Linked DNA regions of Homo sapiens. The protein of the gene in region 2 interacts with the protein of the main gene of each other region in a pairwise test. Each region holds a gene or a part of one and is shown on either strand. Other genes may lie near its edges. The genes, in order: SH3GLB2 and FBXO8.

Evidence for each region.
Region 1: the proteins of FBXO8 (region 2) and SH3GLB2 interact in a two-hybrid assay, tested with the Homo sapiens proteins (one large-scale study listed by IntAct).

What each region holds. Positions count from the first base shown.
Region 1 is NC_000009.12:129,014,832-129,018,465, forward strand, and holds part of SH3GLB2 (endophilin-B2), read right to left. Parts: intron 1,029-3,634; exon of another isoform or gene 909-1,028; intron 74-908; coding exon 1-73.
Region 2 is NC_000004.12:174,276,852-174,280,861, reverse strand, and holds part of FBXO8 (F-box only protein 8), read left to right. Parts: intron 1-4,010. UniProt on the Homo sapiens protein: May promote guanine-nucleotide exchange on an ARF. Promotes the activation of ARF through replacement of GDP with GTP.

The DNA.
Region 1 (3,634 bases), on a different chromosome or scaffold from region 2:
GCCGTGTGGATAAAATCCCTCTCCGCGGCTCCCAGTTGCTTTTCAGCTTCTGCCACCTTGATCAGTGTCTTCCCTGAGAAAACAGAGTTGAAGCGTGAGGAAGAAGGTCAGGCTCAGGCTACTCTGATCTACAGGAGAGGGCTCAGGAAGAGCTTGCTGAAGAGCAAGGGCCGGGGTGCTCAGTGCAGAATGCTTTGCCTGGGAAAAAGCAGAAGCAACCTACACTACACCATCAACTGGGAACTAACAAATAAACAATGGGACAGCCAAAATATGGAACACAATGCAGCCATTATAAAGATCGGGGTTAGACTTCCAGAATGTCAGAGAAAGGAGCTCAACAAATCCCCTCCCAAAAAAAGTAACAATAAAACTGGACACCACGCCAGGTGCGGTGGCTCACACCTATAATCCTAGCACTCTGGGAGGCCGAGACGGGAGGATCACTTGAGCTCGGCAGTTCCAGACCACCCTGGGCAACATAGGGAGACCTTATCTCTTTGAAAATAAAACAAATTGAAAGAAAACTGGACACAATTGTCAAAAACATCCATTTCTGGACTCTGCAAATTGACCAAGGCAAAAAACAAATTGAAAAGCATTTAATCAAGAAAAACTACTGGGCTGGATGCTGTGGCTCACACCTGTAATCTCAGCACTTTGGAAAACCAAGGTGGGCAGACTGCTTGAACCCAGCTGTTCAAGACCAGCCCGGGCAACATGGCAAAACCTTGTCTTTATAAAAAATAAATAGAAAATCATAAGAAAAATGAGCAGCGCCTCAGCACCTACGGGGCACTGTCAAGTGAACCAACATATGACTAACAAGAGTCCCAGAAGAGGAGGAGAAAATAAGGCAGAAAAAATATGTGAAGAAACAATAAGAGGCTGGGCGCGCTGGCTCACACCTGTAATCCCAATACTCTGGGAGGCCCAGGCGGAAGGATCATTTGAACCCAGGAGTTTGAGGCTATAGTAGTAAGCTATGATTGCACCACTGCACTCCAGTCTGGGTGACACAGCAAGATCCTGTCTTTAAAAAAAAGAAAAGAAAAGAAAAAACATGGTTTGATTCATCACATACAAGAGAGCTAAAATAAGATGAATTGTCTTCTCATTAGAAACAATAGAAGCCAGACAGCAGTAAGATAATATATTCAAAGTAAAGAAAAAATTGTTCATCCAGGAATTCTATATATAGCAAAACAATCCTTCAAAAGTGAAGGCAAGGCCGGGCGCAGTGGCTCACGCCTGTAATTCTAGCACTTTGGGAGGCTAAAGTGGGTGGGTCACTTGAGGTCAGGAGTTCGAGACCAACCTGGACAACATGGCAAAACCTCGTCTCTACTAAAAATACAAAAATTAGCTGGGTGTGGTGGTGTGCATCTGTAATTCCAGCTACTTGGGAGACTGAGGCAGGAGAATTGCTTGAACCCAGGAGGCAGAGGTTGCAGTGAGCCAACGTCACACCACTGTACTCCAGCCTGGGCAACAAGAGCAAGACTGTCTTTAAAAAAAAAAAAAAAAAAAAAAAAAAAAAAAGATACGGCCGGGTGCGGTGGCTCACACCTGTAATCCCAGCACTTTGGAAGGCTGAGGCAGGCGGATCATGAGGTCAGGAGTTCAAGACCAGCCTAACCAACTTGGTGAAACCTGTCTCTACTAAAAATACAAAAATTAGCCAGGCGTGGTGGCAAGCACCTGTAATCCCAGCTACTCAGGAGGCTGAGGTAGGATAATCGCTTGAAACCGGGAGGTGGAGGTCGCAGTGAACCAAGATCGCACCACTGCACTCCCGCCTGGGTGACAGAAAAAAAAAAAAATCCAAAGATACACTTTAAATTTAAAGACATGAATGGGCTGAAAAAAGTACACCATGTATGCAGTAACCACGAGAGAGTTAACGTGGCTATACTACTACCAGACAAAATAGACTTTAACACAAAATAGTACTAGAGACAAAGAATAGTATTTTATAATGAAAGAGTCAATTCATCAGGAAGATGCACAAATATAAACATACAGACCTAAGACAGTTCCAAAATACATAAGGCAAACACTGACAAAGAGAGAAATAAGATAATTCAACAGTAATAGTTGGAAACTTGAATACTCTGCTCTTTTTTTTTTTTTTTTTTTTTGGTCTCACTCTGTCTCCCAGGCTGGAGTGCAGTGGCGCGCTCTTGGCTCGCTGCAACCTACGCCTCCCGGGTTCCAGCAATTCTCCTGCCTCAGCCTCCCAAGTAGCTGGGACTATAGGCGCGCACCAGCATGCCCAGCTAATTTTTTTGTATTTTTAGTAGAGACAGGATTTCACCATGTTGGCCAGGCTGGTCTTGAACTCCTGACCTCAGGTGATCCAACCACTTTGACCTCCCAAAGTGGCGGGATTACAGGTGTGAGCCACCATGCCCAGCCTCAATAGTCTACTCTTGATAATGAATAGGACAAGACAAAATCAGCAAGGACATACAAGCCTTGAACACTATTAACCGATGTGGCCTCGCTGACACCTATACAGCACTGCACCCTCAACAGCATAATATCACATCTTCTCAAGTGAACCTAGGACATTCCCCAGATAGACCATATACTAGGTCATGAAACAAGTCTCAATAAATTTAAAAGGATTAAAACAATAAAAATATGAGGCTGGGTGTGCTGGCTCATGCCTGTAATCCCAGCACTTTGGGAGGCTAAGGCAGGCGGATCACTTGAGATCAGGAGTTTGAGACCAGCCTGGCCAACATGGTGAGACCCCCATCTCTATTAAAAATACAAAAAATACGCCGGGTGTGATGGCTCACACCTGTAATCCCAGCACTCTGGGAGGCCAAGGTGGGTGGATCACGAGGTCAGGAGATCGACTATCCTGGCTAACACGGTGAAATCCCGTCTCCACTGAAAAAAAAAAAAATTAGCCTGGCATGGTGGCAGGTGCCTGTAGTCCCAGCTACTTGGGAGGCTGAGGCAGGAGAATGGCATGAACACGAGAGGCGGAGGTTGCAGTGAGCCGAGATCGTGCCACTGCACTCCAGCCTGGGCGACAGAGCGAGATTCCGTCTCAAACAAAAAAAAAAAAAAAAAAAATTAGCTGGGTGTGATTATAGGTGCGTGATGGTGCGTGCCTGTAATCTCAGCTACTCAGAAGGCTGAGAGGCTGAGGTGGAGGATCCCTTGAACCTGGGAAGTGGAGCTTGCAGTGAGCCCAGATGGCACCATTGCACTCCAGCCTGGGCGACAGAGCGAGACTCCATCTCAAAATAATAATAATACTAACATAGCACGACATGTTCATACATTCTCTGATCGCAGTGGAATTAAGTTAAAAGCAACAATAGAAGAAAACCCAGAAAATCCACAAATATCTGAAAATGAAACAACACACTACTGACAGGAATAAAAAAATCATACAGCTACTTTGGAAAACAGTTTGGCAACTTCTTAAAAAGTTAAATTAAATTGGCTGGGCGCAGTGGCTCACGCCTGTAATCCCAGCACTTTGGGAGGCCAAGGCGGGCGGATCACAAGGTCAGGAGTTCAAGACCAGCCTGGCCAACATGGTGAGACCCCGTCTCTACTAAAAACACAAAAAATTAGCTGGGCATGGTGGCGGGTGCCTGTAATCCCAGCG
Region 2 (4,010 bases):
TAGCAATCACCATTCTACCTTTTGTTTCCAGTTTTGGAAACCGGAAGTGTTTGTATTCATATTACTGGAAAGTGGTAAAGAACCAAAACCTCATATAAATGGGCTTATCCAGTATTTGACTTTTTTTGACTGGCTTATTTAACTTGGCATAATGTCCTCAAGGTTCATCTTTGTTGTAGCATATGCCAGAATTTCTCTTCTTTTTAAGGTCACATAACATTCCCTTATATGTGTCAGCCACATTTTGCTTATCCATTCATCTGTTATTGGACACCTGGGTTGCTTCCATGTTTTAGCTGTTGTGAATAATGCTGCTATGAACATGGGTGAACAAATATCTTTTCCAGACCCTGCTTTGAATTCTTGAGGGTATATACCTGAAAGTGGAATTGCTAGATCACATGGTAATTCTGTTTTTAATTTTTTTTTAGGAAGCTCCATATTGTTTCCGCAGAGGCTGTACCATACGTATTACATTCACATTAACAATACATAAGGGTTCCAGTTTCTCCACATCCTTGCCAAGACTTATTTTTTTTTCGATAGTAACTATCTTAATGGGTATAAGGTGGTCCCTCATTGTACTTTTGATTTGTATTTCCCTAATGATTAGTGATGTTGACTGTATTTTCCTGTGCTTATTGGACGTTAGTGTATTTTCTCTGGAAAAATGTCTTTTCAAGTCCTTTACCCATTTTTGAATCATGTTTTTGTTATTGTTGAGTTAAAGGAGTTATCTGTAAATTATAGATATTAGATTTTATCAGATACATGATTTTCAAATATTTTCTCTCATTCGGTGGGTTGCCTTTTTACTCTGTTGATACTGTCTTTTGATGCACAATTTTTTTTTAATTTTCATAATGTTCAGTTGGTCTGTTTCCTCTTTTGTTGCTTGTGCATTTGGAAATCATTGCCAAATTCAGTGCTGTAAGCCTTTTGCCCTGTTGCCCTGTTTTTTCGTCTAAGAGTATTACAGTTTTATGTCTTAGATTTAAGTCTTTGATCCATTTTGAGTTAATTTTCATAGATAATGTTGGGTAAGGTTCCAACCTCATTCTTTTGAATGTGGATATGATTTCTCAGCACCATTTGTTGAAAAGACTGTCCTTTCCCCCATTAAATGATCTTGACACCTAGTCAAAAATCTTTTGACCATATATGTGATGGTTTATTTCTGGATTCTCTGTTCTATTTCATTGGTCTGTATGTCTCTTTTTATGCCAATACCATACTGTTTTGGTTACTGTAGCTTTGTAATAAGTTTTGAAATCAGAAAGTGTCTTCCAGCTTTGTTGTTCTTTTTCAAGTTTGGTTTGACTATTAGAGGTCCCTTGAGATTCCATGTGGATTTTAGAATTTTTTTCTATTAATGCAAAAAACGTCATTATAATTTTGGCAGGAGCTACATTGAATCTATAGATCACTTTGGGTGGTATTGCCATCTTAATAAGTCTTCCAATCTGTAACCACAGGATGTACTTCCATTTATTTGTCTTTCACTTCTTTCAGTAGTGTTTTGTAGCTTTCATTCCAGAAGCCTTTTACCTACTTGGTTAATTCCTAAGTATTTTATTCTTTTTGATGCTGTTGTAGTTGGTATTATTTTCTTAATTTCCTTTTCAGATTGTTTATTGTAAATGTATAGAAATACGACTTATTTCTGTGTCTTGACTTTATGTCTTTCTACTTTGCTGAATGGATTTATTAGTTGTAAGTTTTTGGTAGAATCTTTAGGGTAACTACAAAGGATTTTACTGCTTTCTTTCCAATTTGGTTGTCTTTTACTTTTTTTCTTGTCTAATTACTCTTGGAACCATGGAATTTTATAGCTAAAAAAGACCTTAGGGAACACCAGTTTCAAAACCCTTATTTTACAGGGGAGGAAACTGAGACCTCAAAATTTTAGTGACTTGGCTGATGCTCCCTACTAGCTAAGGAAGGAGACTGAGTCAAACTCATGTTTTCTTTCCATCAGTCTCTTTTCACTATTAAATGTTTTCTCATTTTTCACCTTCCTCCTATTTCTGGCTGCCTTCAATATTCATTTAATTTAATACCTTGTTTTATTTGTATAAAAGCAACTCAGTGAGAATTATGACTTTTGTTTTGGTTTTTAATTCCATAGCACTCATAGCAATGGCCTTTGTGGTTAGTGGGCAGGTGAGTATGTGTATACTGAGAAGGTGGGTTAGGATATGCTACCATGACTACAGCTGATTACAGCCACTTTAAGTAAATAGTGATACAATTAAGTAAGAACCATATAATTAAAAATAATGCTAGTGAGAAGTATGATACATTTATTTTAAAGTTTCAAATAGTTGGACAATGGAGCATTTCTTGAAAAACAAACCACAGAAATTGAATAAGCCTAAAATTCTTAGATTTTTGGTTGCATTTAAATAACACATCTTAATTTTTACATTTATTTAGTTGCCATTTTGGTAACACTTTTTATAGAATAAAATTAACAGGAAAAAAACCTTCAGGGAACAAAGTAATATTGTAAATCTTTTTGAATTAAAAAAAACCAAAACCTGCAAATGGTATGCCTTTTAGTAACAAAAACTGCTCTTGCAGGACCAGATCTTTAAATTTAATGAGTAGGGGCTTTTTATGTGTTCAATGTACCTTGTGACCTCTTAGTACTTAGCTATTTCCCTTTTCTCCTTAGAAAGACCTCCTTGTGGACTTACCCTTCCTTTATTTCTCTACATTTGTTGCCTTTAAATTTTAGGGATGTGATTGGTTATCAGGGTTTTTTTCTTTTTTAAAAAATTTCTCTACGCAGTCTGTTCTAAACTTCTTTGGTGGTCTATTCTTTTGGAAGTGAAGAAATAAATGCTAGGCTCCTGATTTGATTCAAAATGTCTCAGAAAATATTTTCTCATAGACTCTCCCATGTTCTTATGCTATTGAATAATATCACATGATATCCCTTAAAGATTTTTAAAACCTGAAGTAACCAAAAATAGAGTTGCTACTTTTTACTTAAAAGCACTGAAAATTTATAAAAACATATAAGTGGATTTCCTTATCGTTAGAATTTGTATTTTAGAGATAACTATTGTAGCACACATTTTAAACCTTTATCTGAGACAGGACATTTACTTATAAATTCCACTATTTAGACAACTAAGAAATACTGAAGAAAAATGACCATTTATAATGTGTATTTAAATGAGGCTATTCATATGTCAGTCATTACATACCAATGATTTAACACCGTTTGCTCAGTAAAAGCTTTATGGAATTGGTTTGCTTCAAACAAAAGTACTTAAAGCAGAATGCTTTTTTGAGACATCCGGACTCCTTTCTATTCTTGCCATCTTTCCCTGTGTAGATTTTATATGCCCAAATAGTATATAAACCATTCTTCATTACTTATTGTCTGCACAGCATGTGCCATTTGAGTGCTTAGTGCCATGAAATTATAAGCAGTAGTTACCTTTTTCTTAATAAATACTACTTTATTTTGGTGTTTAACTTGTTACAGAGAGATAGTTTGATTAAAGCTGCTTAATATTTTACAGATAGACTTTGTATTAGATACAAAATATTAATAAAACTTGTATTTTAGTCTTTTTAAGAAATAGTCTACTATTTTGAATAGGAAACAAAACATAGTAGTCAAAAATACCATCTCTTAGAAATGTAACGATCTTCTAGAAGTTAAAAAGTATAGAAAACTATTATTGTTCTTATAAATTTTAATAAATGTGTAATTATTTGTAGTTAATCCATAGTTTGTACTGCTTTTAAGTGGAAGCGCTTTTATGCTGTTGTAACAGACTTGGTTAGACTAAAACTGCTACTTTAAAAAAAATACATCCAAAATTATGTCAGAACAATATAGCTGTTTCAGAAACTACATACTGCTTTACCAATTAAAAGATGCTTTTATATACATTCTCTTAGTTAAGGCTCATAGCCACCCTGTAAAATAGATAGGAATGATTTCCCCCATTTTATAGGAAACAAAAGATCAGAACCTTGTTTGAAATACC